Regions from separate parts of the Homo sapiens genome. Here region 2 is linked to region 1. Evidence: fine-mapped expression QTL. A gene starts in region 1. The other region holds a variant in brackets. All regions are shown on one strand. Distances are between the middles of the regions. Region 1 holds the start of AP2A2 (adaptor related protein complex 2 subunit alpha 2). Region 2 overlaps AP2A2 (adaptor related protein complex 2 subunit alpha 2).

Region 1 (9,778 bases):
GTAGCTTCCAGGAATTTGGCCCAGCAGCAGCCGGACGGACCCTGGGCTGCCAGGCTGGCTCAGTTGATCCAGACACCGTGGGTGCTGCAAAGGACCCAGCTGTTGTCCGGGGCCTGTGTCTCAAAAGCCATCCTACAAGTGTTCTGTGGGGTTTTGTTGACAGAAACTCAGCTTCCCGCTGTTCACAGGTGCCCAGTCATCCCCCTCTGTGCGATTGTGGGTGTGGATGTGTTGGGGCCTGACTCAGGATCAAGGGCTGAGCTGGGCGGGGACTCTTGGGAAGTGGGGCTTGGGGTCCCAGGTTATCGAATTTACCCCATGCCAGTTCTCTGGGCCCCGCACAGCACTGCAGCTCTCCCGCCAGACGTCTGGGGAGGCTGCACCTCCCACCCTGGTGGCTGTTTTGCTGCTGTCTGGGCCCAGCTGTGAATGGCTTTGTATTCCTCCGGCTTTGCAGTGGTGAGAAAGATGTGTGGTCATGGCAGCTCCCACCCGCCCCGTGATGAGCACTCAGGAGCCTGAGCTCATCTTCTCCTCCTTCAGGTGGGCTGGCTATACCTGACGCACCCACCCACCGCAGAGTTCCAGAATGCACCCCTCATGCCTCCCACCCTTCCATGGCAGGGGACAGTCAGTTCCCACAGCCTTCCCTGAGCATGTCACTCCTGGGGACTGCAGGTGCTCAGATGATCACGGGGGGGCCACAGGGTCTGAGCATGCCACCTCATTGTCCCTGAACTCTCATGAGTGCACAGGGACCAACTGTACATGGAACATGCTGCCAGACCCTCTTCTGGAAGGGTCATTGTCTGCAACTTACGCCAGAGATGATGAGAAGGAAACTGGGTCATTTGTAAAACAGACATGTTCAGGTCTGGGTAGGACCCAGGGCATGGCCAGCTAACGCTGCAGGGGCTATATGTTGGGGAACCCTGCTGCAGTGAGACAGCACCTCCACACCGCAGCTTGGGGCCCCAGCCTGTTTTCCCTTCATGATGCCCACGTCGGGCTTGTATCTGTGGACCCTGGCTTCCCCATGGCTGTGGATGAAGGAAAGCGACTCGTCCCCACCTCTGCCCTTGGGAATAGTACTGTGACCTTGCGTGGCTAAAGTATGACAAACGTTCAAATAATTTAAGAAATGGCTGGGCGCGGTGGCTCACGCCTGTAATCCCAGCACTTTGGGAGGCCGAGGAGGGCGGATCATGAGGTCAGGAGATTGAGACCATCCTGGCCAACATGGTGAAACTCCACCTCTGCTAAAAATACAAAAAATTAGCCGGGCGTGATGGTGCGTGCCTGTAATCCCAGCTACTGAGAAGGCTGAGGCAGGAGAATCGCTTGAATCCGGGAGGTGGAGGTTGCAGTGAGCCGAGATCATGCCATTGCACTCCAGCCTGGGCGACAGAGCAAGACTCCATCTCAAGGAAGAAAAAAAAAAAAAAAGAAAGATACTGAGGCTAGGCACAGTGGCTTGTAATCTCAGCACTTTGGGAAGCCAAGGCAGGAGGACTGCTTGAGCCCAGGAGTTCAAGACCAGCCTGGGCAACATAGTGAGACTCCATCTCCACAAAAATCAGAAACTTAGCCAGGTGTGGTGGCGTGCACCTGCAGTCTAAGCACTTTGGGAGCCAAGGCAGGAGGATGGTTTGAGCCCAGAAGGTCGAGGCTGTAGTGATTCATGATTGTACCACTGCACTCCAGCCTGGGAGTCAAAGGGAGAAACCCTGTCTCTAAAATTAAACATAAATAAATAAATAAATAGGCCAGGCATAGTGGCTTGCATCTGTAATCCCAGCACTTTGGGAGACACAGGCAGGCGGAATGCTGGGATTACAGGAGTTCAAGACCGGCCTGGGCACCGTGGTGAAATGCCATCACTACAAAAAATAAAATAAAGAAAAAGAAACTGTTTCCTAGGACTGCGCACTCCCGAAGCTGGCCTCTCCCGAGCCGAGGAGTGGCAGTGGTCAGAGAGGCCCACATGGACTCAGACCCAAGGCTGGGACTGGAGTGAATCATCTGGAGGGCTTGCGTGTCTGCAAGGGCAACGACGCTGGAAGGAGGTGGGAAGTCTTTTGCATGGCTGCATGTCGGGCCTTCTGGGACCCCTAAACACTCTTGTGTGGACGGGAGGATGTCTGTGGGAATCCCAGAGCTGGCACTGAGGAGGAGTCTTCCGAGTGGGCGGAGGGGGATGCCTGCCAGGCCCAAGCCCTCCTGTGGGCAGCCCCTGCAGCACCCCCATTGCCCTGCTCTGTGAGTGGCTGCTGGTGGGGGGGCACAGTGGTCTGCTTGTCTCGGTCTTCTGCACTGCCACTGCCAATGGGAGCTTGGATTAGGCATGCCAGCCTCCTGACGCCCAGAGCCCATGCTCTGCCCACGTGTGTTAGTGGACGGTCCTCGTGACTGCTGGGACTGTCCTGGAGAGCAGCCCAGGACCCCTCACATGGCACAAGATGCTCTTGTGTCCAGAATGGCCTTTATTTGTTGTCAGGGACAGGGGAGGGAAGCTTCTTGGTGGAAGGGAGAGGCTGAAGAATGAACAGCCCCGGGACCACTTTCTCTGCCAGGAGGTGGCACTGGGAGAGGATAGGGACTCCGGAGGGGTGTACCGTCCTCCAGGAAGCCCTCTGCTGGGTCGGCTCCGTGCCTCTGTCTTGGGAAGTGATGGACTTGGTTGCCTTATGCTGACTGGGGTCTGTCACAGATCTTGGTTTTCCCCAGGAGTTCTGGAGGCCCAGAGCCTGGGTGCGGCACCCGGTTCATTGGGGAGGGGCATGGGTCCTGTGCCCTCCTCCTGGCCGGGCTCCACCAGGGCTAAGCTCTCATCTGGGGCTGCGGAAGTGAGCCAGGGTGGGGACAAAGCCCTGGCTGGTGGGTCTGGGCCAGTTCCAGGTACAGGGTCCAGATCCCCCCACTGCAGCAGGAGGGAGCTTCCTGTTCAAAGCCATCTGGCTCTGGGAAGGACAGTGAGGCAGGGCCATCTGCTTCCCCACTCCCTGGGGTCTCTTCCTGGCCGGGACCTGGAGCTGTGCAGCCTGGCCCAGCAGGTCCTCCCTTGCGATGTGTCCACAGGGGTGGGCCTAGGCCTCCAGCTTGCAGTGGTGCAGAGGGCTGGGGAGCAGAGGGGGCCCTGGCAACAGTGGCCAAAAGTCCTGGCGCCGCCGAGGGACTAGATTCCGCAGGGGCTGCCGCCCCCGGCCGCTGTCACTGGGGTGGGGTGGGTGGTTGTTTCTCTGCAGGCCCAGGTGATGTGGAGGGGGCACCTGGGCTGCCACACAGACCCTGGGCTGGGTCGGGCACGGGGCCTGCCTCGCCCCCAGCTCAGGGACCGCAAGAGATGTGGCCCTGGCGGCTCAGGGCGGCAGGAGGGGCGGGCCAGCCCCACCGTCTCAGGATACCGTGCTAGGGGAGGGTTTCCTCGCCAAAGGCCGTCCAGCGGCTGTGACCCCTTCGCCTGGAGCCCCAGCTTCCTCCCGGCGCCGCCCTCCCGCCCCGGCCCCCGCGGAACAAACAAGGCCCTGGCCTCGGAGCTGCCCCGCCGCCCAGCGCTCACAGGTCGTTTATTCCAAGTAAGAAAACGGAGACTGCTCGGGGCAAGCTAGCGGGGCCGAGGCCCAGGACGAGGCCGTACGCGTGTGCCTGCGTGGCCGCCTCTTTTGCAGTGACCACCAACAACGACAGAGGCGGCCCGCTGCACACGCGGGTTCCCGCCCGGACCCACGCCCTTCCCGTGGGGGACGCGGGCGGCATCGCCAGCTTGGCGCGGCCCCGGGACGCGAACGCGTGGCTTCAGCGGCTCCGTCCATGGTGTCCGCCTGCAGGGGGCGCCCCCGCGCCTGCCTCGACCGGCTCGCCCCCGTGCCGCGGACGCGCGCGCGCTGCCTCACGCGACACCCGCCCCGGCCGCCGTCCGTCGTCGCTCGCGTGCGTGCGCGTGCGTGCTGGTGCGGGCGCCGTACGTGCGCGCGCGCGGCGGCCCAGAAAGCGGCGCTGGGACCCTGAGGCGGCCGTGGTTAGGCGGCTCCCCGGCGGCTCCTCCGCGGCGGTGACGGCGACCGCACTCCCCGCTTCCCGCTCCCCGCGCTCCTCCGCCCGGGTCCGCCAGCCGAGGCCGCTCCCGAGCGTCGGAAGATGCCGGCCGTGTCCAAGGGGGACGGGATGCGGGGCCTGGCGGTCTTCATCTCGGATATCCGCAACTGTGAGTGGCGGGGGCGGCGTGGGGCCGGGGCCGGGGCCGCCGGCGGAGACGGGGTCTGGGAGCGGAGGCCCGGGGCGGGGCCTCGAGGCGGGGGTGCAGGCTGGGATGCGGGCGGGGCCCGGGGCCTGAGGGTGCGGGCGGCGCTCGGGGTCTTGGGGTACCGGGTCTGGGGGTGGGGGCCAGGGTGCGGGGTGGGGGTCCAGGGTCTGGGGGTGCGGGCGGCGCTCAGAGTCTTGGGGTATCGGGTATGGGGGTGCGGGTCAGGATGCAGAGCGGGGCCCTGGGTCTGGGGGTGCGGGGTGGGGTGTCCAGGGTCTAGGGGTGCGGGGTCTAGGGGTTTAGGGCACGGCCCTTCATCCACATCTCCACTCCCGTTTGCTGGTCCGTGCGGGGGGCTGCGGCACCACCAAGGGGGTTCCGGGCCAAGACGCCCCTCCCCAGCATGATGTCACCTTGGTCTTTCTAGTACTGGAGCGTTTAACCCAGCGTTTTCCAAAACGGCGTGGATTTTAGCTTTGGGAGCAGAAATCTGGAAATCAGTGTCTTCCCAGGAAACAGCTTTGTGACCTGGGTTCTGGAGGCTTATTAACCCCTGATTAGATCTCACCTACGACGATTAAAATGACTCATTCCCGGAGGGAATCTGGACACGAGCAGCAGTCGGGGTGTGGGATGGCCTCGCTGCCTGCTGCTCCAATCACAGACCTCGTTCTCAGCCCCGTGCCTGTCCCCTCGGGGTGGGAAAAATCCACACCAAACCGTTAAACAAGCCAGGAAGGCTGGGCCTGTTAGAAGGATGTGCAGGGTGGCTGGGTGGGTGCACCGGTCCACCAATTAATTTGACTTTGGTGTGCAGAACCTCCTCTTGGCTTTCAGAGGCCATCTCCTTATTTAATTTGAGGGAGAAACAAAGCCAGTTTCCTGTCTGCTGCGTTGATTTTTTTCCTTGTTATCCAGCAAATAGTTGACTTCATGATTTTTGTTTTTCTTTTTTTTGAGACAGGGTCTTGCTCTGGCTCTCAGGCTGGAGCGCAGTAGTTCCATCACGGCGCACTCAACCTCCCACCTCAAGTGATCCTACCACCTCAGCCTCCGGAGTCACTGGGACTACAAGCGTGCACCACCACCATGCCTGGCTGATTTTCGTGTTTTTTGTAGAGATGGGGGGGTCTCGCCATGTTGCCTAGGCTGGTCTCGAAATCCTGAGCTCAAGTGATCCACCTGTCTTGGCCTCCCAAAGTCCTGGGGTTACTGGCGTGAGCCACGGCACCCTCATAATTTTTAATGTGTATTTTGAGGGACTGTTGTGATCTTCCCTTTGAATTCTCATCTCCTTAGACGGGATGGAGGATCAGGAGGATAGTGGTTCTCCCACACTCTGTGGAAGGGTAGAGGACCATCTAACCCTTCCTGTACTCTGTTAAAAAAAAAAAAAAAAAGCATAGAGCTGGGTGCGGTGGCTCAAACCTATAGTCCCAGCATTTTGGGAGGCTGAGGCAGGTGGATCTTTTGAGCCCAGAAGTTTGAGACCAGCCTGGGCAATGTGGTAACACCCTGTCTCTACAAAAAAATACGAAAATTAGCTGGGCGTATTGGTGTACACATCTATAGTCCCAGCTACTTGGGAGGCTGAGAGAGGAGGATCACTTGACCCCAGGAGGTTAAGGCTGCAGTGAGCTGAGATCGCGCCATACTCCAGCCTGGGTGACAGAGTGAGACCTTTCTCACAAAAAAAAAAAAAAAAAAAAAAAAGGCTTAGAAACACCCTCAGATCAGCACTTTTACGAGTAGCATTTTTTCTCTTTGTTTGTTACATAATGAGACCAACATGCATTTTGTAAAACTAAGTGTGTGTATTATTTCTTAAGGGGACCTCTGGGACAAAGACTGAGTACCCTTAAATGCGCTATGATGTCTGTCCTTCCATTTTTGAAGAAAATTGCGTTAGGCAGGACAATGAGATTGAAAGCCATTTCCTCAGACAGCAAGTCACCCACTTGTCAGATATATTGTCTGTGCCAGGGCCTGCGTTTGACAGGATGGCGCCTACCACAGTGAGTGCGGTATAGCCGTCCTCCCTTATTTGTGGTTTCACCTTCTGAGGTTTCAGTTACCTCTGGTGATCTGAAAATAGGTGAGCATAGTACAATAAGATATTTAAAGAGACCACATTCATATAACTTTTATTACAGTATATCATTACAGTTCTTTTTTATTATTGGCTTCTGTTAATCTCTTACTGTGCCTAATCTGTAAGTTAGACTTTTTCATAGGTATGTGTGGGAAAAAAGCAGCTTGTATAGGATTTAGTATCATCTGAAGTTTCAGGCACCCACTGAGTGCCTTGGAACGTATACCTGTGGATATGGGGAAACTGCTGTACTCTATAAAATACTTGACTATATAGACCAGACTTTCTCCAACTCAGCAGAGCTGACATTTGGGGCTGGATCACACTTTATTGTGGGGAACTGTTCTGTGCCTTTTAGGATGTTTATAGCAGCACCAGTTGCCTTAGTTGTGATAAGGAACAATGTCTCCAGGCATTGACAAATGTGCCCTTAGGGCAAAGTTGTCCGCCGTCGAGAACCACTAGTGTATCCCATTGAATAACACAGCCCCTCCCCTGAAGGAGCTCGTAGAAGAAGGGGTGCTTAGTCCTAGCTGGGGGAGCCAGGTCTCTTTAATACGGCCCCTTTCTCGGAATCCTCTTTCCCTCATTGCTGTTGGATGGCCTCTCATCAGCTGCAGCGCCCACCATTCTCCTCCTGGGCAGTGTCTTCAGCTTGTGGTGCTGCTTTTCACCTGAGTGGCCCCATCTCCCCCACTGCCCTCTAGGGTGGCCTCTACAAGGTGCGCACCCTATCTTGCTCATCACATTTTTCCTGCTGTTCTCCTCATGGCGAGCGTCTGGCATGCGAGGTGCATGCCAGAGAAGACCTCACAAGGAAGGTGATTCTTGGGCAATTCAGGCAGAAGACCAAGAAGGTATTAGAGGAACAGCAAATAATTAATGTATATACGTATTGAGTTAATGAATGTTGGCTGGTGCCTGGAGACGGGATTGGAGAGCCAGCCAGGGTTTGAGCTGATCTGAACTTGACCTCCATGTCACAGGCAGAGGGGTCCCCGCTTCCCCTTTCCCTGGCCAGCTCTGATTTTGTGTGCTGTTTTCCTGTCATGAGAGTGAATGATAGGAGTAGTCGGGCCCTGTGGAAAGAGGACTCTGAGCCAACAGCCAAGGCTCTTGACCCTGACTCTGCCTCTTAGCAGCTGCATGAGTGGAGGCCACTGGCCATGGAGCCTCAGTTTCCACAGCGGACAGTTGAAGGGCTGGATTTTCAGCTGAAATATCATTAAAGCTGCGTGAGTGGAGGCCACTAGCCACGGAGCCTCAGTTTCCTCAGCTGACGCTTGAAGGGGCGGATTTTGAGCTGAAATATCGTTAAAGCCTGTTTCAGCTCCAAATTTGCGTCTTTCTGACCAGTTTCTTAAGTTTTCCTCCTTTAGCCTGGGCAATATAGTGAGACCCCTGTCTTTTCAAAAGAGAAAAAAGAATTAGCCAGGCGTGGTGGCACGCACCTGTGGTCCCAGTTACTCAGTGGGCTGAGGTGAGAGCATTGTCTGAGCCCTGGAGGTTGAGGCTGCCATGAACTCGGATTGCGCCACTGCACTCCAGCCTGGGCAGCCTGAGGAGCAGATTGAGACCCTGCCTCAAAAAAAAAGTTTTTCCCCTCCAAGACCTGGTGCCAGCCGGGTGCGGTGGCTCACGCTTGTAATCCCAGCACTTTGGGAGGCTGAGGTGGGCGGATCACCTGAGGTCAGGAGTTCAAGACCAGCCTAGCCAACATAGGGAAACACTGTTTCCACAAAAATACAAACATTAGCTGGGCGTGGTGGCATGCACCTGTAGTCCCAGCTACTCCGGGGGCTGAGGCGGAAGAATCGCTTGAACCCAGGAGGCGGAGCTTGCAGTGAGCTGAGATTGTGCCATTGCACTCCAGCCTGGGTGACAGAGCGAGACTCTGTCTCAAAAAAAAAAAAAAAAAAAAAAAGCCCTGTGCCAAGTATCTGAGGTAGCGGACAGGGAGCATGTGGACACTAGGATGCTCTGTTTTCACTTCAAGTAACCCACTCCCAGCAGACTGGCTTGGGGCATTACTCCTCTTAGCATAGGCAGCAATGAATATGCTCCAGGATTTGAAAAGGTGCCTCGTGTCAAGCTCTGCCCCTCAAAGTTGTAGCTTTTGTGGCTCAGGTAGTGAACTAACTTAATGTCTCCTAAAATTAACTTCATCCTTTCTGATTGACGTCAACCCAGCGGCCACTGCATTTGGTCAGCATGCATTCAGTGTGTGAGAGTTAATAAACTGTTTCTTTTTTTTTAAATTGGCATTAAAAAAATTCTAGTCCTTTTATTTAGTCCCAGTTTTAGAATTTTTTTTTTTTTGAGACGGAGTTGCGCTCTGTCGCCCAGGCTGGAGTGCAGTGGCGCGATCTCGGCTCACTGCAAGCTCCGCCTCCCGGGTTCACACCATTCTGCTGCCTCAGCCTCCCGAGTAGCTGGGACTACAGGTGCACGCCACCACGCCCGGCTAATTTTTTGTATTTTTAGTAGAGACGGGGTTTCACCGTGTTAGCCAGGATGGTCTCGGTCTCCTGACCTCGTGATCCACCGGCCTCGGCCTCCCAAAGTGCTGGGATTACAGGCGTGAGCCACTGTGCCTGGTGCCCTACCTTTCTTAATGTGGACATCTTGCATAACTACAGGACATATTCAACACCAGGAAACAGACACTGGTACACACCACCAGGCATATTCAGATTTCGTTAGATCGACATGCACGTGTGTGTGTGTGGTTCTATGCAGTTTAGCACCTGTAGCTTTGTGTAACCGGTTCCCTACCTCAGTCAAGATACAGAACTATACCATCATCACAAAGCTACCCCTTATAGCCATACTCCTGAAACTAATCTGTTCTCCATCTCTGTAATTTTGTGGGCTCAAGGATGTCATATAAAGGGAATCACATCATATGTGATCTTTTGAGATTGCTTTTTTCCCCCTCAGTACAGTCCCATCGAGGTCCATTCAGGCTGGTGCATTGATTGACATTGTATTTGAGCAAAAGATACCGAGAAAACAAAATAACTGCTGAAATTGGGGAAACAAGACCATAATTATTTGCTATTTATTCAGTTATTTTGGAACTTTCGTTTGTTTTTACACAAATGACATATCTGCAGAGGAGAGTTGTATCTAACTTAGTGAATGCATGTCTTTATGCATTGCTGTTGACATGCCAACACTAGAATATTGTTGGAGAGACACAGCACTGCTGAAAATGTTGTCAGGCTCTGAGAATTGACTGCAAAACAATCAGGACTGCAAGGAAAGGGAAGAAGTGATAAGTCCTTTTGAGACCGGTCAGTTTGCCAGGAAAACAACTTCAGGCAGGAAATGACCATTTTTATTTCTCTACATGTGGTGCTGGTGTGGTGCAGATGCTTGGAGGCGTTTTCTTTAACCCCCCCAGGTCCTCACATGAAGGGGAAACAGATGGAGAGATGTTA
Region 2 (9,778 bases), 71 kb after region 1:
AGGTGCTTCTGAAACTCTCACTTTGACTTTGGACGACAGTTTGGTCTTGGGATTGCCATGGCCTGCAGGTGCCGGCCCTCAGCAGCCTGTCCCCCACAGGTGCTGAAGGTCGCCATCCTGGCTGAGAAGTACGCGGTGGACTACACCTGGTATGTGGATACCATCTTGAACTTGATCCGAATTGCTGGTGATTACGTGAGTGAAGAGGTGTGGTACCGAGTCATTCAGATCGTCATCAACCGGGACGACGTGCAGGGCTACGCGGCCAAGACTGTGTTCGAGGTATGGCCCGCAGGATGGCAGGAAGGATGGGGTGGAGGGCAGTTGCAGAAGGTGAGCAGTGAGTGGTTCCAGCCTGCCTGCGTGGAGGTGCCGAGGGCCGTTGCTGACCCCTCTTGCCCCTCAGCTCTTCCCTGAGGCTCTAGCTCCTCCACTGTTGGTGCCCCTTGCTGAGTCCCAGTTTCTTCTCACCCTAACTCTCAAACTTCTGGCTCTCTGGGGGCCACCTGAGAAAGCCGGCCTCTGTGTGTGTGAGAGCATGCTGGGGCATGCCGTGGTGGGGCCTGCCCTGTCCGTCGGAGAGGGTTAGGCCACCGGCAAGGGGTGTGCCATGAGGACGCTGGCAGAACCTCCCCAGCCAGAGCCTGTTGTGGATGCTGCAGCTCCCTCCAGGGCAGGTCAGCGTGTGGCAGCCTTGGGTTCCTTGCTGCTGACACAGGTACTGAGGGTGCTGAGGAAGGCAGGGATGGGCACTTGGACTGGGGTCTCCAGGAAGCTGAGGGGCTGGTGCTGGTGTAGGGTGCACCGCGCCAGGACGTGCCCGCCTCGCCTTAACTCTGGCACCTGGCTGCCACCCCGGCTCATTGTTTGTGCTTCGCAGGCTCTTCAGGCTCCCGCGTGCCACGAGAACCTGGTCAAAGTGGGCGGCTACATCCTGGGGGAGTTTGGAAACTTGATAGCTGGAGACCCGAGATCCAGGTGAGAGGCCCTTTGCGAGTCGGGGCTGTGTGCGCTCCGGCGGGCCTCTCGGTGGTCGGTGGCAAGAGGCGAGGCACCAGCTGGCCCTGCCGTGAGGCCTCGCAGAGCCGCTTCTGCTCCCCATCGGCGTCTTTTTGTTTTCCTTCAGTTGATAGAAAAAGCAGGGATTCTAGTAGAAAATGGAGACGTGGGGTTGATGGCTGACTTAGTGAAAGGGGCGTCTTTGCGGTGGGATCTGGAGCTGGAAGAGGGTCCCGACCAGCGGCCTCTGGTGCAGGCCAGGGGGTCTCGCCGCCGTCCCCCCCCCGCGGGGGCGTGCTGCAGCCTGCGAGGGGACGACGGTGTCCCTGTGTTGTGCCTCCCCGTCCCCAGCCCGCTGATCCAGTTCCACCTGCTGCACTCCAAGTTCCACCTGTGCAGCGTCCCCACCCGCGCGCTGCTCCTGTCCACCTACATCAAGTTCGTGAACCTCTTCCCGGAGGTGAAGCCCACCATCCAGGACGTGCTGCGCAGCGACAGCCAGCTCAGGAACGCAGACGTGGAGCTGCAGCAGCGTGCTGTGGAGTACCTGCGGCTCAGCACCGTGGCCAGCACCGACATTCTGGTAGGAGGCCCCCGCCCTTCGGGCTGGCTTGGCTGAGGGTTGGAGGCCAGGAGCTCTGACCAGTCCCACCCTGTGTTCTTTCCAAGGCGACCGTGCTGGAGGAGATGCCCCCATTCCCGGAGCGGGAGTCCTCCATCTTGGCAAAGCTCAAGAAGAAGAAGGGCCCCAGCACGGTGACAGACCTGGAGGACACCAAGCGGGACAGGAGTGTGGACGTGAACGGGGGTCCTGAGCCTGCCCCAGCCAGTACCAGCGCCGTGGTGGGTCCCTCACCTACTGTGCACCCAGACCTGTCAGGGCCTCACCCCCAAGACTTGGGACCAGCAGAGCATTTGCCTGTCAGGGAGGAGCATGTACTGAGAACCCAGGCTCTGGCTGTGGCTCTGGACACCCCGCTGTCCTGTCCTGGGGGCCACTGTCCCTGCTGGACACGCTGCTGTCCTGTCCTGGGGGCCACTGTCCCTGCTGGACGCCACGCTGTCCTGTCCCGGGGGCCACTGTCCCTGCTGGACGCCCCGCTGTCTGTCCCGGGGGCCACTGTCCCTGCTGGACGCCCCCCTGGCCTGTCCCGGGGGCCACTGTCCCTGCTGGACGCCCCGTTGTCCTGTCCCGGGGGCCACTGTCCCTGCTGCACACCCTGCTGGCCTGTCCCGGGGGCCACTGTCCCTGCTGGATGCCCCCCTGGCCTGTCCCGGGGGCCACTGTCCCTGCTGGACGCCCCGTTGTCCTGTCCCGGGGGCCACTGTCCCTGCTGGACGCCCCCCTGGCCTGTCCCGGGGGCCACTGTCCCTGCTGCACACCCTGCTGGCCTGTCCCGGGGGCCACTGTCCCTGCTGGACGCCCCCCTGGCCTGTCCCGGGGGCCACTGTCCCTGCTGCACACCCTGCTGGCCTGTCCCGGGGGCCACTGTCCCTGCTGGACGCCCCCCTGGCCTGTCCTGGGGGCCACTGTCCCTGCTGCACACCCCGCTGGCTTGTCCCGGGGGCCACTGTCCCTGCTGGACGCCCCTCTGGCCTGTCCCGGGGGCCACTGTCCCTGCTGCACACCCCGCTGTCCTCTCCCGGGGGCCACTGTGCCTGCTGGGCAAGGCACTTCCTTCAGACCGTCGTCTTGTCCAGCTCAGCTCACACATCCTCTGTGGTGCCTTGTTTTAGGGGAAGTGGCCGTCCCCTCTCCTACAGGACTGCCTCACCCAGGCAGCTGTCCTCACATGCTTTGTTGATTTAGAGAGGACCTGTCCTGCCCTGCTCTTCGAGGTTTTATGTAGTGAGTTGGGTTAGGTCTGGTTTTCCTTGTATGTGTGATGCGATGAGAATAATCCTGTAACAGAATGTGTCCTGTGGTATTTGTCAGGTGAGAAGTGTCGTTTTGAGAGTTGCGTTTTTGCTTGGCTCTGCTTGCCAGCTGTTCCCCTCTGCACTGTCAGGGAGGGCTCCTGTCGGGGTCAGGCGGGCTTTCTGTTTGTCCAGTTAGAGGACCTGTCTCTCCAGGACGCAGGTCCAGTGGTGGCAACCAGTGCTGCTACCCAGTATCGGCAGGGCTTTGTGGGGTGAGCTCCTGTGGTGGTGCCTGCCCTGGCAGTGTGCTGGTTGGGAGGGTGCTCATGTCGGAGTCCTGGCACTCCTTGGCGGGGACCTGCTTATGTGCCCCGGCTGACCATGTGTCCTGCCCCTCTGGCCGACAGTGCAGGGCCTGCCATGGGGCTGGTATCCAGGCTGAGCCTGACATCTCAATGAGCAGTCTTCCCTCCCCCTCTTCCTCCCTCTCCCCTCCCTCCACCTAGTGTCCTCTGTGCAGCCCCTGTCCCCCCGTGCCCTCTCTCTGTGTTGTTTGTGGCACGCTGCTGTGCCCGCCATCTGGAGGCTTGAATTGCCTGTGAGCTCATCCTGGAGTGAATGAAATGAATGAAAGATGTGACTCTTTCTCCCAAGGTGGGCGTCTTCCCTTCACGCCTGAGCACCTTCATGCTTATGTTTCTCATGTGCTCTGTAGAGCTGGTGACCTGCTTTTGACCCTGTCTCCTCCCGTGGGACGTCACTAGCCAGGCGCCTAGTGCAGCAGGCCTCTGTCACTCCTCTAATCCATCTCTCCCTCTCCTTTGGACATCTTGACATAGGTTTCTGGAGGCAGAAACTTGCTTGTGGAGATTTGTCTGTGAGCTGCCGGAGCAGGGGCCTTCCCGTGGGTGCTGGGCCGGCAGCGGCTCCGCCCTGCAGAGAGGAGGACGCGGCCCCAGTTGGGTGAGGAGGCGAGGGCAGGATGACGTGATCCAGGGGAGGCTGGTGTGCAGGGATTCCTGGAGGCCGGCTTTCAGCAAGGGCACTGTGAAGTCTTCCACGGAAACCTGGGATTGCCTGTTGGAAGCTGGGAAGGCACCAGGTGCTCTCGCTCCCCTCCAGCTGCTTTGACGTTAAGAGGAACTCGCTGAGGGAGCATGGAAAGGGGCTGTAGGATTGTCTTCAGTCTCTCTTTGGTTCTTATTTGATGTTTCTTTTTAATGTGGGTCCTGAGAAGTGAGGTGTGCCCATACCCCAGGCCTTTGATCACACCCAGGTTTGTCCGGCTAGGCTCAGGGTGGACTTTGGAGGGCCTGGCCTTGACTGTGTGGCTTAGGGATCAGATGGAAGCTTCTGGACCCTGGGAGTGAGAGCAGTGTGCTGCCCTCTGAAAAGGAGGATGAGGGTCCAGTGAGGTTCAGCATTTCTGTAAGGTGCCTTCTTGGAGGGAGTTCCCCCTTCAGGGCTCATTCAGTGGATTTTCTGAGTGTGGCTTCACTCCTGATGGTCAGTGGTGCCTGGCGGGTGGGTTCCTTAGGGAGGTGTCTGTGGCCGAGGCACGCAGCTCTGTTCTGAGCTGAGAGCTGTGGTGTGTGGGCACCTCCGTCCTGACTGAGAGCTGTGGTGTGTGGGCGCCTCCGTCCTGACCGAGAGCTGTGGTGTGTGGGCCCCTCTGTTCTGACCGAGAGCTATGGTGTGTGGGTGTCATTGCTATCCTGTGCTTTCCAATCTGTTCCCATTGCTCACGGGAGCCCCAGTGAGAGGCCCCTCCCTATGGGGAGACACTCCTGGCGAAGTTTTCTTGCTCAGGGTCTTCTGTATGGGCCGTGAAGGGGCCTCAGGGTGGCATCAGCACATGTGCCTTTCCCACGAGAGACAGTGGCTTTATCTTGGTGTCACATTGGCCAAAATGTCTTTTATTTAACATCATAGATGAGGCCAGGACATTTTACTTCTTCCGAGCATCCTCTTTCTGCACACAGCTCCTTGGGGGAGGCTGTGGTGTGCGTGTCCCCGGGTGTGCTGGGGAGCACAGGGGTGTGGGGATCAGAGGCTGCCTGGCTTCACATGCAGGAGC[C/G]TGGGGCCCTTGTAGGCAAAACCTTCACCCCTCAAGTTGTCCTGCTATTGGAGGGAGGAGGTGAACTGGTGTGGCCCAGGAGCCAGGCCTGCTCCCTGAGGAGGGTCTCCCAGGCCTGAGAGGATAAGGAAGATGAAGAACCTGAAGTGGGTGTTAGGACCCTACTGTCCTGGGGCCTTGCATCTGGCCTCGCTGTTACAATCTGTGGTAACGTTTCAGGTACAAATGCCTTTACTAGGGCAAAGGGCTTTCCTACTTTAGAAAGCAGTTAAAAGCCATAGATGGCTGGGCATGGTGGCTCACACCTGTAATCCCAGCGCTTTGGGAGGCTGAGGTGGGCGGATCACTTGAGGTCAGGAGTTTGAGACCAGCCTGGCCAACATGGTGAAACCCCGTCTCTTCTAAAAATACAAAAATTAGCCAGGTGTGGTGGTGTGTGCCTGTAATCCCAGCTGCTCGGGAAGCTGAGGCAGGAGAATTGCTTGAACCCAGAAGGCGGAGGTTGCAGTGAGCTGAGATTGCACCACTGCACTCCAGCCTGGGTAACAGAGTGAGACTCGGTCTCAAAAAAATAAAATAAAATAAAATAAAAGCCATAGATGTATTTGAATCAGTGCAGGAACCAGGGTAACATCTGTGATGAGATGCAGAGGAGAAACTGTCTCCATTTGGGCTGCAGGTGCATGGCCATGGCCAAGGCCGATGGCTTCCCACGCAGCTCACAGCTTTGTCAGGCTGTGGAGGCCACAGTGTTGGCGGGCGCTGTCCCCGGCGTAGGGAGCAAAGCGCCGCCTTCAGATGGTCTCATCGAGACACGCCTTGGATATTTTTGGGACTCTTCTCTGCCAGCTCCTCTGTGACCTCCCACCCTTGGAGCACATGAGACCCGTGTCGTCTTCTCTTGCAGAGGTGCTCCGTCACAAGAGCAGAGCCTGGGAGCCTGCCCCGTTTCTGACTGCCCCCCAATCCCCATTCTGACTCTCACCCGCCCCCATTCTGACCCCCCGCCCCCATTCTGACCTGCACCTTTTTTGCATAACACACTTTGTGATGCCTCATTTATCTTTGAGTAAAATTCATATATCACAAACCCACACATGTAGTTTTTTTGAAAGTACAGTGTGACACCTTAACTTTGCATTAATGTAAAATGGCATTCAGGTGGAGTCTCAGATAATTACAAACTAATTTTTTACCTTCTTAGATGTCCAGTGGAACATTCTAAAGTTACTCAAGACGAATCTTCAAGTTAGGGTGTCTTGTGTCTCTGTTTTTTGCCTGTGAAATGCCAATATCCTTGTGATAGTCAGAGCCCTCCACATCTCCAGAACGCTCTTAGCTGGGTGGGGGGTTTCTCCACCAAGAGCCCCTGGTGTATAGTGTCAAAGTGTGAGTGTTGCCAGGCTGTAGTTCAGTGGTACGATCTTGGCTCACTGCAATCTCCGCCTCCTGGTTTCAGTTCTCCTGCCTCCACCTCCTGAGTAGCTGGGATTACAGGCGTGTGCCACCACACCCAGCTAATTTTTGTATTTTTAGTAGAGACGGGGTTTCACCATGTTGGCCAGGATGGTCTCAATCTTCTGACCTTGGGATCTGCCCCCCTCGGCCTCCCAAAGTGCTGGGATTACAGGTGTGAGCCACCGTGCCAGGCTGGGTGTCCTTTTTATAGGGAGCATCTGAGTCCCTCTGGTGCACAGGCTGCTGTGGGGCAGGACCCGTGGAGCCCAGAGCAGGTCTGAGCTCCCAAAGTCAGGCTGCTGGGGCATTGCTGGGGAGCCTGCTGCCCTGTTGGATGGGTGAGCATGCGATGGACTGAGCTGCTGCTTGTGCCCTGTTGTGAGAGTTTAATCATGAGATCATAGGCGCTCTTTCCTTGTGCCTTTGCCCCAGGATCAAAGAGCAATTACTGGGGCCGGGTGCGGTGGCTCATGGGAGGCCGAGGTGAACGTATCACCTGAGGTCAAGAGTTCGAGACCAACCTGGCCAACATGGTGAAACCCTGTCTCCACTGAAAATACAAAAATTAACTGGGCGTGATGGCGGCCACCTGTAATCCCAGCTACTTGGGAGGCTGAGGCAGGAGAATCGCTTGAGGTGGAGGTTGCAGTGAGCCCACACCAGTGCACTCCAGCCTGGGCAATAGAGTGAGACTGTCTCAAAAAAAACAAAAACAGAGACAGTCTCTTGCTATGTTGCCCAGGCTAGTTTTAAACTCCTGGACTCAAGCAGTCTTTCTGTCTCAACCTTCCAAAGTGCTGGGATTACAGGTGTGGGGCACCATGCCCAGCCAAAAAGCAATTATTTTTTAAAAGTATCCGTTCTGTAGACTTTTAATGATTAATAATGATTTAGTAATAATTTAATGATTAATAATGCACCCGAGTAAGTTATTTGCTTTTTCATCTTTGGAAGCTTACTTTCTTATTGGACAGTTGGCAGTAACATGCATGATCTTAGTTCTTTCTTTTTTTTTTTTTTTTTTGAGATGGAGTCTCGCTCTGTCGCCCAGGCTGGAGTGCCGTGGTGCGATCTCGGCTCACTGCAAGCTCCGCCTCCCGGGTTCACACCATTCTCCTGCCTCAGCCTCCCGAGTAGCTGGGACTACAGGCGCCCACCACCACGCCCGGCTAATTTTTTTTGTATTTTTTAGTAGAGATGGGGTTTCACCGTGTTAGCCAGGGTGGTCTCGATCTCCTGACCTCGTGATCCGCCCACCTCGGCCTCCCAAAGTGCTGGGATGACAGGTGTGAGCCACCGCGTCTGGCCTTTTTTTATGTCTTTCATGGCAAAATTTTTTTGAGAATTTTTTTCATTCAAATAGCATTTGTGAAAAAATGTAGGGTGCCTTAGTGAAATTATGACTGATGTTTTAAGTGCAGTTATCTTTAGGCTGGAGTCTGGGATATACTCAGGAAGTGGCTGTTAGCCCTCACTCTCTGGTCACTCACTGAGTTGTGTGCCACCTGCCCCAGCCACTGGGAGTGCATGGATGCCAAGGGGGTGCCATGGGGGAGGACGTGCAGGCGTGAGCTGCCTGGGGTTGGCCAGGCCAGGGAGGCTCTCTGCTGATGCTCTCCTTCCTTCTCTTCCAGTCTACGCCTTCTCCGTCGGCAGACCTGCTGGGTCTCGGGGCTGCCCCCCCTGCCCCCGCGGGCCCCCCACCCTCCTCCGGCGGCAGCGGGCTGCTCGTGGACGTGTTCTCAGACTCGGCCTCTGTGGTCGCGCCTCTCGCTCCTGGCTCCGAAGACAACTTTGCCAGGTAGTCAGGTTTCCTGAGTCCTGCAGACAGGCACGGGGCTGCCGTGCCCCCTGACTTCTGGTGTGGCCGCGGCCAGCTGGACAGAGGTGGGCAGCGGAGTTTACCTCCCAGATTACTGCCTGGGGGAGAGAGCGGGAGCTGCTGTGTTGTGGGTGGGTTTGCTGTGTCATTCCTCTCACAACCTTGATTTATATGGACTGCAGTGTTCATTACTCTCAGGAGGAAAAGGAGGACATGAAAGAAACACACTGTCTGGGTGGTGGTTGTGTCCTGTCTGCACGGTGATGTCCGATCATGTTTCAGCTGCTGTTTGAGTGTTGATAAACACTCTTTGTAGCTACACGTCTCCTCTCTTCGCCTCTTTCCTGTCTAGTTGGGCTGCTTTTCATTCTGACTTAAGCCGTCTTGTCTGTGTCTGTCCTGGAGGCCCGGTCTCTTGTCCTTGAGTTGCTCACTTGCTAAGTCCTTCTGTGAGGCCCACCCTGCTCACGCCTTCGGCCTCCACCCTGTGGTTCCCCCTGAGGGCAGCCTGTCTTTGCTGCTTGTCCTGCTCTAATTTCTGTCCGGTGCCTGGGCACCTCCCGGCTCCCTGTGTGCAGTGGTCTCTGCCAGTGTCTCCGTGGTCTTCAGATCGTCGGTGCTGACCACTTTCCCCCGCACGTGCTCTCCCCAGCCCTCTCTGCTGGGCTCATCAGCTGTGCATTCCGCTTACTGGCTGCTCTCAGCCATCTGCTTGTTTTCATGTCTGGCCGGAGGTCTGAGGTGCCCCCTTTCCTGGAGTTGACGCCTCTCCCCTGCTGCCCTGTGGGGTGGGAGCGCAGGTGCCGGTTTCTGTCCCAGATGGAGGTTAGAGAGCCTTTGAGGAATGGCCTTTTGGCCCCCCATTTTGAAGACTGTAATAGAGTTCTGGTGTTTTTCAGTTCTTTGTATTCATGTTGCACGTGAGTTCTGTTTCCTGTTACGTGTTGGGAAAGGACTTAGGAGAGGCAGGCCGGCGTGGTGGTGGGTGCAGGTCGCCGCTTGGGCTGAAAACAGTCTTACTGCTCTTAGAGTCGCTGTGTTTGAGATTGAGAATCCAGGTTGCAGGGCTCTGGTGGTGGCTGCTCCTCAGTGTCTTGGTGGCAGGAAGGGACCAGGGGCTGGGCAGTCCGTGGCAGCCGTGGCCCTTCCCTGCTGGGCGCTGCCTGCCCTGTCTCCATACGGCTGTGCTGGGAGCTGCACATGGCCCTTGTGCACGCCTCACATTGGGTGGCGCTGTCTGCAGCTGGCCAGGCCTCGGGGCTCTTGTGCATGCGGCCGTCTTGGCTTTGATCTGGCTACAGAGGGTCATCAGGTGTCTGCGTGTGTTTGGTGTAGGATGGAGGCACAGAGTGCCTCAGGGCGAGCCGGCTGTGGTGGCTGCTGGCACACGGCTCACAGGACAGGGCGGCTGCATTCTCATGGCCTTGCAGAGTGGTTTGCATTTTCCCCAAAGATTCCTCCAGGCCAGGTTGTAGTTGGGATGAACCAAGCAGAGATACTGACCACAAGGGCCTCTCTGTCACGTCATGGGTGGTCCGTCAGAGCCCCTCCCGTGTTCTTGA

The links.
Region 2: its variant is fine-mapped to the expression of AP2A2 in blood mononuclear cells (TOPMed, PIP 0.94).

The regions. Positions count from the first base shown.
Region 1 is chr11:921,885-931,662 of GRCh38, forward strand. AP2A2 (adaptor related protein complex 2 subunit alpha 2) reads left to right here and starts at 3,986. Exons shown (of 22, transcript NM_012305.4): 1 at 3,986-4,204. The coding sequence starts at 4,138. RefSeq lists a silencer at 3,798-4,337.
Region 2 is chr11:992,404-1,002,181 of GRCh38, forward strand. AP2A2 (adaptor related protein complex 2 subunit alpha 2) reads left to right here. Exons shown (of 22, transcript NM_012305.4): 11 at 100-282; 12 at 881-978; 13 at 1,351-1,582; 14 at 1,669-1,842; 15 at 8,029-8,195. Among named protein-coding and RNA genes, the nearest start is that of MUC6, 39 kb to the right of the region's middle. RefSeq lists an enhancer at 1,881-2,405. The variant C/G (reference allele first, on the strand shown) is at 4,937.